Linked DNA regions of Homo sapiens: region 2 is reported to be linked to region 1. Evidence: microRNA targets listed by miRTarBase, many of them from high-throughput screens and not tested one by one. Region 1 holds a microRNA gene; the other region holds the end of a gene's coding sequence.
The links. Region 1 holds the annotated microRNA hsa-miR-130b-3p (CAGUGCAAUGAUGAAAGGGCAU, at 2,394-2,415, opposite strand). A microRNA usually pairs through its seed, bases 2 to 8, with sites in the 3' UTR of a target mRNA and lowers its output. Matches are read on the target gene's strand: a 7mer-m8 pairs with bases 2 to 8, a 7mer-A1 pairs with bases 2 to 7 and ends in A, and an 8mer does both.

Region 2: the mRNA of SNAI3 is a reported target of hsa-miR-130b-3p. The part of its 3' UTR that is shown has no 7-base or 8-base seed match.

Annotation. Positions count from the first base shown.
Region 1 is chr22:21,652,185-21,655,768 of GRCh38, reverse strand. It overlaps MIR130B (microRNA 130b), which reads right to left and starts at 2,465; the gene lies at 2,384-2,465. MIR301B (microRNA 301b) reads right to left here and starts at 2,788; the gene lies at 2,711-2,788. It also overlaps the pseudogene LOC107985532. RefSeq lists enhancers at 3,075-3,124, 2,661-3,332, 3,333-3,584.
Region 2 is chr16:88,675,967-88,678,966 of GRCh38, forward strand. SNAI3 (snail family transcriptional repressor 3) reads right to left here. Exons shown (of 3, transcript NM_178310.4): 3 at 1,722-2,663. The coding sequence ends at 2,482. The region is part of intron 3 of SNAI3-AS1 (SNAI3 antisense RNA 1); the gene reads left to right. Among named protein-coding and RNA genes, the nearest start is that of SNAI3, 9.0 kb to the right of the region's middle. RefSeq lists enhancers at 1,567-2,324, 2,325-3,000.

The sequences.
Region 1 (3,584 bases):
TGCTTGAACCCAGGAGGCAGAGGTTGCGGTGAGGCGAGATTGCACCATTGCACTCCAGCCTGGGCAACAAGAGCGAAACTCCGTCTCAAAAAAAGGGTGGGGGGTTATTGGGCCCCTCCTCTTTGTCAGACACTGCCAAGAGATTTTTTTTTTTTTTTTTGAGACGGAGTTTCCCTCTTGTTGCCTAGGCTGGAGTGCAATGGCGCAATCTCAGCTCACCGCAACCTCTCCCTCCTGGATTCAAGTGATTCTCCTGCCTCAGCCTCCTGAGTAGCTGGGATTACAGGCATGCGCCACCATACCTGGCTAATTTTGTATATTTATTTTTTATATTTTCAAGAGGGAGTCTTGCCCTGTTGTCCAGGTTGGAGTGCAGTGGCGCGATCTTGGCTCACTGCAACCTCTGCCTTCCGGGTTCAAGCAGTTCTCTGCCTCAGCCTCCCTAGTAGCTGGGATTACAGGTGCCCACCACCACACCCGGCTAATTTTTGTGTGTGTGTGTGTGTGTTTTTAGTAGAGATGGGGTTTCACCATCTTGGCCAGGCTGGTCTTGAACTCCTGACCTTGGACCCACCTGTCTCAGCCTCCCAAAGTGATGGGATTACAGGCGTGAGCCACTGCGCCCAGCCTAATTTTGTATATTTAGTAGAGATGGGGTTTCTCCATGTTGGTCAGGCTGGTCTCAAACTCCCGAACTTAGGTGATCCACCTGCCTCGGCCTCCCAAAGTGCTGGGATTACAGGCATGAGCCACTGCGCCTGGCCAGAGATTTTTTAAATGACAGTTGTCTCTGCCTCAGGGGCTCCCAGTCTAATGGACACTTCTGCCACAGGGAGAACATTTTGATTTAGGCCGGGTGCGGTGGCTCATGCCTGTAATCCCAGCACTTTGGGAGGCCCAGAAGGGCAGATCATGAGGTCAGGAGTTCGAGACTAGCCTGGCCAACATAGTGAATCCCCGTTTCTACTAAAAATACAAAAATTACTGGGTGTGGTAGCACCTGTAGTCCCAGCTATTCGGGAGGCCGAGGCAGGAGAATCGCTTAAACCCGGGAGGCGGAGTTTGCAGTGAGCCAAGATCGTGCCACTGCACTCCAGCCTGGGCGACAGAGCAAGACTCCATCTAAAAAAAAAAAAATTTGATTTAACAAGCTGTTCTGGAGGAATATTCAATGCTGTGAAGCCCAGAGAAGGCTTCCATTGGGAGGGAGCCAGTGAGCAGAGCCCTGAGTTCAGTCTCCCCGCAGCAAGAGCAGGAGACAGCTGCATGGGGGTCTCCAGCCAGTGGGTACAGAATCTGTACAGGACTGAGGGGTGGCCACCTCCAGCCATGGCCCCTGGTGCCTAGAGGAAGGGAGGATGGATCTAAGTCAGATGACCCTAGGATCAAGGAACCCCAAGGGATCAGGACTAGGAAGCCAAGGAGCATGTGTCATTGCCCCTGTTCCTCCCACGGGTGCCAGGGCTTCTCTCCCCAGGGTAGGGGTAAAGCAGTTTCCCAATGCGCCCAGCTAGGGATGAGGGGAACTCCCAAAAGCCCATCTGGAAACCTAGTCCTCCTCTAAAGAAGATTTGAATGACTGTGACTGGGCACGTAGAAACCTTTTGCACCGTGTCAGGTCTTGATGGTAGAGGTGGTCATCCAAGCATGCCTGGGGTCAGGCTCCTTGGAAGTTCAGCTCCAACCCTGTATTCCAGCTGGGACGGTTGGAATGTTAGACACCTCAGTCCCTCCTGCAGGTTCAGGGCACACCTCTCTGTAAGAGAACAAACTGGCATGGTTGGTAGACATCATTTGCAGGCTTTGTATCCCAAGTCCACCCATCCATCTCACATAGTACCACTCCAGCTGAGTCCACTCAACTGATCAGTCAACTGGTCAGTCCATAGTACCACTCCAGCTGACGTCCTGGGGTGAAGGCTGCCTCCTGAAAGGCCTGCCTTACCCCCTTACCCAACTGCCACCCAGAAGAACATTCTCTCCAGAGCCTGGCCCTGTTCAAGCTTCCAGCAAGGACTGGGCCCAAGCCAGGCCTAGAATGATCTTCCATGCAAAAGACTGGGCGTGTATTTCCCCTAAGACCCTGACCAGGCCTGGAGTTCCAGTCTTACCCCAGGGACCCAATGTGGAAAGACCTTCAAACAAGAGCTTTTCAGAAGCTGGGGAGGTCTGCTCCTGCACCTGTCCAGCCATGACAGGATGGAGAGTTTAGGGATGATTCTCCAGCTCTGCACCCACCTGATCCTCTGATGGAGGGTCCAGTCCAGCTTCACATCTGTGCCTAATCAGTGGAAACACTTACCCTCTGGGCACCTCAACCTTCTCAACTGGAAAGTGGAGTGAGGCAGCAAGCTCCCTTTCCCCCTCCCAGGGTAGCAGGCTGGACCTGACCGATGCCCTTTCATCATTGCACTGCTTCCCAGCGGCCTATAGTAGTGCAACAGGGAAAGAGTGTCGGGCAGGCCTGCCAGTGCCTCCCCCAGGGTGGTCTGCAGGGATCTGAGACCTGGAATGCAGGCTGGCTGGGGCGGGGCCTCTGCCCGGGGGGAAAGGGTGCCCTCTGACCCCAGAGGCCCAGGCCTGTCTAGAATCTCAAGTTTCCATGGAGAAGGGAGCGAATTGGGTAGGGGGGAGGGGAGGGCCTGCAAGCCCAAGGGGCCCTGCCTGGGGAGTGGGAGGTGAGGGTTATAGGGAGGGAGATCCCCAAGGCTGGTCCCAGATGCTTTGACAATATCATTGCACTGCTTCTCAGAGCACAGTAGTGCAACCTCGTCAGAGCACCTGCGGCCAGCAGGGGGGACCCCACCACCCCCAATACACGCAGGGCGGGAAGCTCAACCATGGATGGGTGGGTGGGGCAGAGCCCCCGTCCAGTCCATCCGGGCAGGGAAGGAGACCGCAGCGGGGTGCGTCCCTGGGGTCTTCAGAACCCAGGACACCCAGGCCTTTCCCAGAACGCTCCGGATTGAGGTGGAGGAGAAACCCCAGACTAGGGGGTTGTTCCAATCCCGGAGCAGGAGCTGACGGGCCACGCAGGGGAGGGGGCGCACACACAAAGACGAACCCGCACTCAGCCGCAGTCCAAAGCCGGCTAGCGCCCGGAGCGGGGTGGGTACAGCCCGACGACCCTGCGCCCTGACTCGGCCCGCGGCTCCAGGAGAAAAAGGGCGGCCCCACCCCGGGACGACGCGCCCCTTCTAGCTGACGACTCCATCCCTGGCCCCTTGCCCTGCACTAGATACACTCTGGATTCTTTTCTAACATATTCTTCTGCCTGGAGGCCCAGAGTGGAGCAGAGGATGGGGGCTCCCCGCCCTTCTAGAGTTCCCTGCTCCAAAGAGGGCCCCCGGGATCCCGGCCGCGCCCCTCCGCCTGACCCGCCGAGTAGGGCCGCCCAGCCCAGCCCAGGATCCCCTCCTCAGACACAGCTGACTCACGCAGACATCCCTTCCGCCCAGGGCCCGGTCAGGACGCGGAGGGTTAGACGGAAGAGGATCCCGGCCATCGTCTGCCCCCGGGTCCCCGTCCAGACGACCCTGCACCTCGTGGCGGCCCCTCGCCTGCCGGCTCCATCTTTAACCCGC
Region 2 (3,000 bases), not on the chromosome of region 1:
GTTGAAGTCCTAATTTTCGGGCCCTCCGCTTGTGACCATATTTGGAAGTAGAGGCTTTGCAGATGTCATGAGTTAAGATGGGGGCCTCCTGGAGCAGGGCAACATGACTGTATCCTCATAAGAAGAGGAGAGACAGAAACAGACACACACAGGGAGATGCCACGGGACTCCCAAAGCCACAAGAAAGCCTGGAACAGCCCCGCCCTCACAGCCTCTGAAGGAACCAGCCCTGCCTTCACCTGGATCTGGGACTTCCAGCCTCCAGGACTGGGGGAGAATGAAACTCTGTTGTTTCGGCCACTCAGGCTGGGGTGCTTTGTTATGGCAGCTGAGTGGGTGCCTCCCTCTCTGGGGACGGCCAATCCCTGTAGGGGAGGCAGTGGTCCCGGTCCAGGAAGGTGAGAGAGGCTTTCTCAGTGTCTTCACTTCGCCAGCTCACGTGGAGACTGGTAGCGGCTGGAGCCCAAGCTCTTCTGGGGAGCCGGTTTACTCAAGGTCACCCTTGATCCAGCGGAGCCCAAGGTCTAGGTCAAGCTTCCTCTGGGATGTCCCCAAGGCTCTTCAAACAGGTGTCGTCAAGCCATCTGCCCAAGGGCCCGTCAGCACCTGGCAGGTGTTAGCCAGGCTGATCTGCAGGCGGGGCTGCCCCGAGTGGGGCTCCCACTGCCCGGGTTGGGACTGGAGCAGCCAAGTGGCTGAGCAACAAGGTGCTTCATGTGTGGTCCCTGTGAGCCCCCCTGAATAGTCTCATGGACAGACGGATGGACGGGAGGCTCAGTGGGCTCTGGGAGCAAGGGGAGCGCTTGCCGCTCTCCACGTGGCTCCATTCCAGGACCAGGACAATGATGTCTTCCTGTCTGCAGCCAGAAGCAGGGCAGCTGACAGCGGCCCAGCCCTCCTGAGGGACAGGTGTCCGCTCCCAGAAACCTCCCTTCCACCATCCCCATCAGCGAAGGTGTCAGGGACTAGGAGGGGCCTCCTTGCTCCTTCCTGGACGCTGCCCCTGGGGTTGAGCTGGAGAGGCTGAGACATGCTGGGAAGAGGAGGACCAGCCCAGTGGGCGGCCGCCCAACAGCTCGGCGGTGAGAAGAGGCCACGTGTAAGAAGGAAACGCCACCACCCCACTGGATGGTGGGAGCAGGACTCCAGGGAGGGGGGTCTTGAGTGTAGGCAACCATGTCGATTTGGCACAGTGTCTCAACAGGGCAGGGCAAGGGTCTGGGATTCCAGTTCACGGATGCCCCAGGTACCATGGGTGGACAGAGGCCCAGACCCTCTGCAAGACAGCAGTGATCATGTCAGACCCTCGCAGCGCTTGAGGGCTGCAGCAGGAGCCCTGAGTCCTCTGTTCTGACCAGGCAGCAGGGAGGACTCGCTGCCCCCAGCTGCACAACGCCTGCCCCGGCCTTGGTCTTGGCCCTCTACCCGGCACCAGCTGGAGCCTCTTGGCCATTCCTCTGTGCCATGGGACACTCTCCCACTCCTGCGCTGGCTTCTGCCCACAGTGGCGCCCCTGCTCACCCACTGGCAGTGTCCCCACCTCTCAGAAGAGTTTTTCACAGTGGCAGGCCCTGACCCAGAGTCTCCTGCCTACTTGGTGGCTAAAGGCCCCAGGCGATCCCCAAATCCTGCTGTCTCAGGGAGTTTCTCAGAGTCCCACCTCCTCCACAGAACCAGGGGATTGGCCAAGACTCAAAGCTTCGAAGAACGGAACATGCAGGTGTGCAGAGACCATTTATTACCCCACGGCTGTTATTGCCTGGGAAGCTGAGTGCCCTGAGACCCCAGCCCCCTGAGGCTCTGACCGGGACAAATCCCACAGGCACTCCGCCTCATCCCAACACACCCAAATCACCAATCGTGGGCTCTCCCAGTCCTGCCCCATCTCCCGGAGAGTCTAGTGAGGTGGGGAGGGCACGTGTGTGTACATGTTTGAGTGTGTGTGCACATGCACATAGACGTGTGACATGGGGCAGCTCGTCCCAGACCCCAAACCAAAGGCTGGCGGGGGCTGGCTGAGAGGTAGTTGTGCCTACTGAGGAAGGGCCACAGGGCGGTGCTCACTATAAGTCAGAACTGTTCATTTCTGCTGCAATGGAACTAGGCAGCCTTGCCAGCCATCCGGCGGCAGTGCCGGCCCATGCTGGCGGCCACCTCCCCGAGGCTCTGACTCTTGGAAGGGTAGCCCCGGAGACCTGGCCGTGTCGAAATGGAACCATGGCTCTTGTTCTGATGAAAGCCTTCCCCGGGAGAGGAGTCTCCTCTGAGTGGGCTCCGCGCGGTGGGATGCCTGGGGGAGTGTCCTCCGGCCCAGTGGCCCCCGCTGGACTTCTTTGGTTCTGATTGGACGCAGATGTGGAGGACGCACCAAGTGTGAGGCCAGGCCCCGCCCTCCCAGACTCCTGGCTCCTCTGGGGGCAGGAGGGACGCCAGCTCTCCCGGTGAGGACCATCCCTCCTACCTGCGCCGACCACGTGCCTCTCAGGGGCCCGGGCAGCAGCCAGACTCCTCATGCCGCGCCAGGAGGGACATGCGGGAGAAGGTCTTGGTGCAGCGCCGGCACCGGTACTTCTTGGCGTCTGAGTGCGTTTGCAGATGGGCCCGAAGGTTGGAGCGGTCGGCAAAGGCCCTGCTGCAGTGCGAGCAGGCATAGGGCTTCTCCCCTGTGGGAGGAAGGCGGCGGCCAGTGACACCATGGAAGATGGAGTGAAGGCTAAAGCACCCACCCTGCCCATCAATGGATACTCCCATCCCTTCCCCACAAATGCTCACAGCCAGAGCACCCAAGGTTGAGCTGTGTGGGGACGGGGTGGCACGCCACATCACCTGAAGCCCCTCCCAGGAGCACAGGCAGCCACAGGTGCTAGATCTCCTAGTGTTGCTGCAGTAGCCCTCCCGGGGCCCTTGGCCACTGGGAGAGGACGGGAGAAGCACTGGGGGCCTCTGGCAGCTGTTTCTGGCCACTCACAGGCAAGTGGGGGGGTCTGGCCAGCTCCAGCA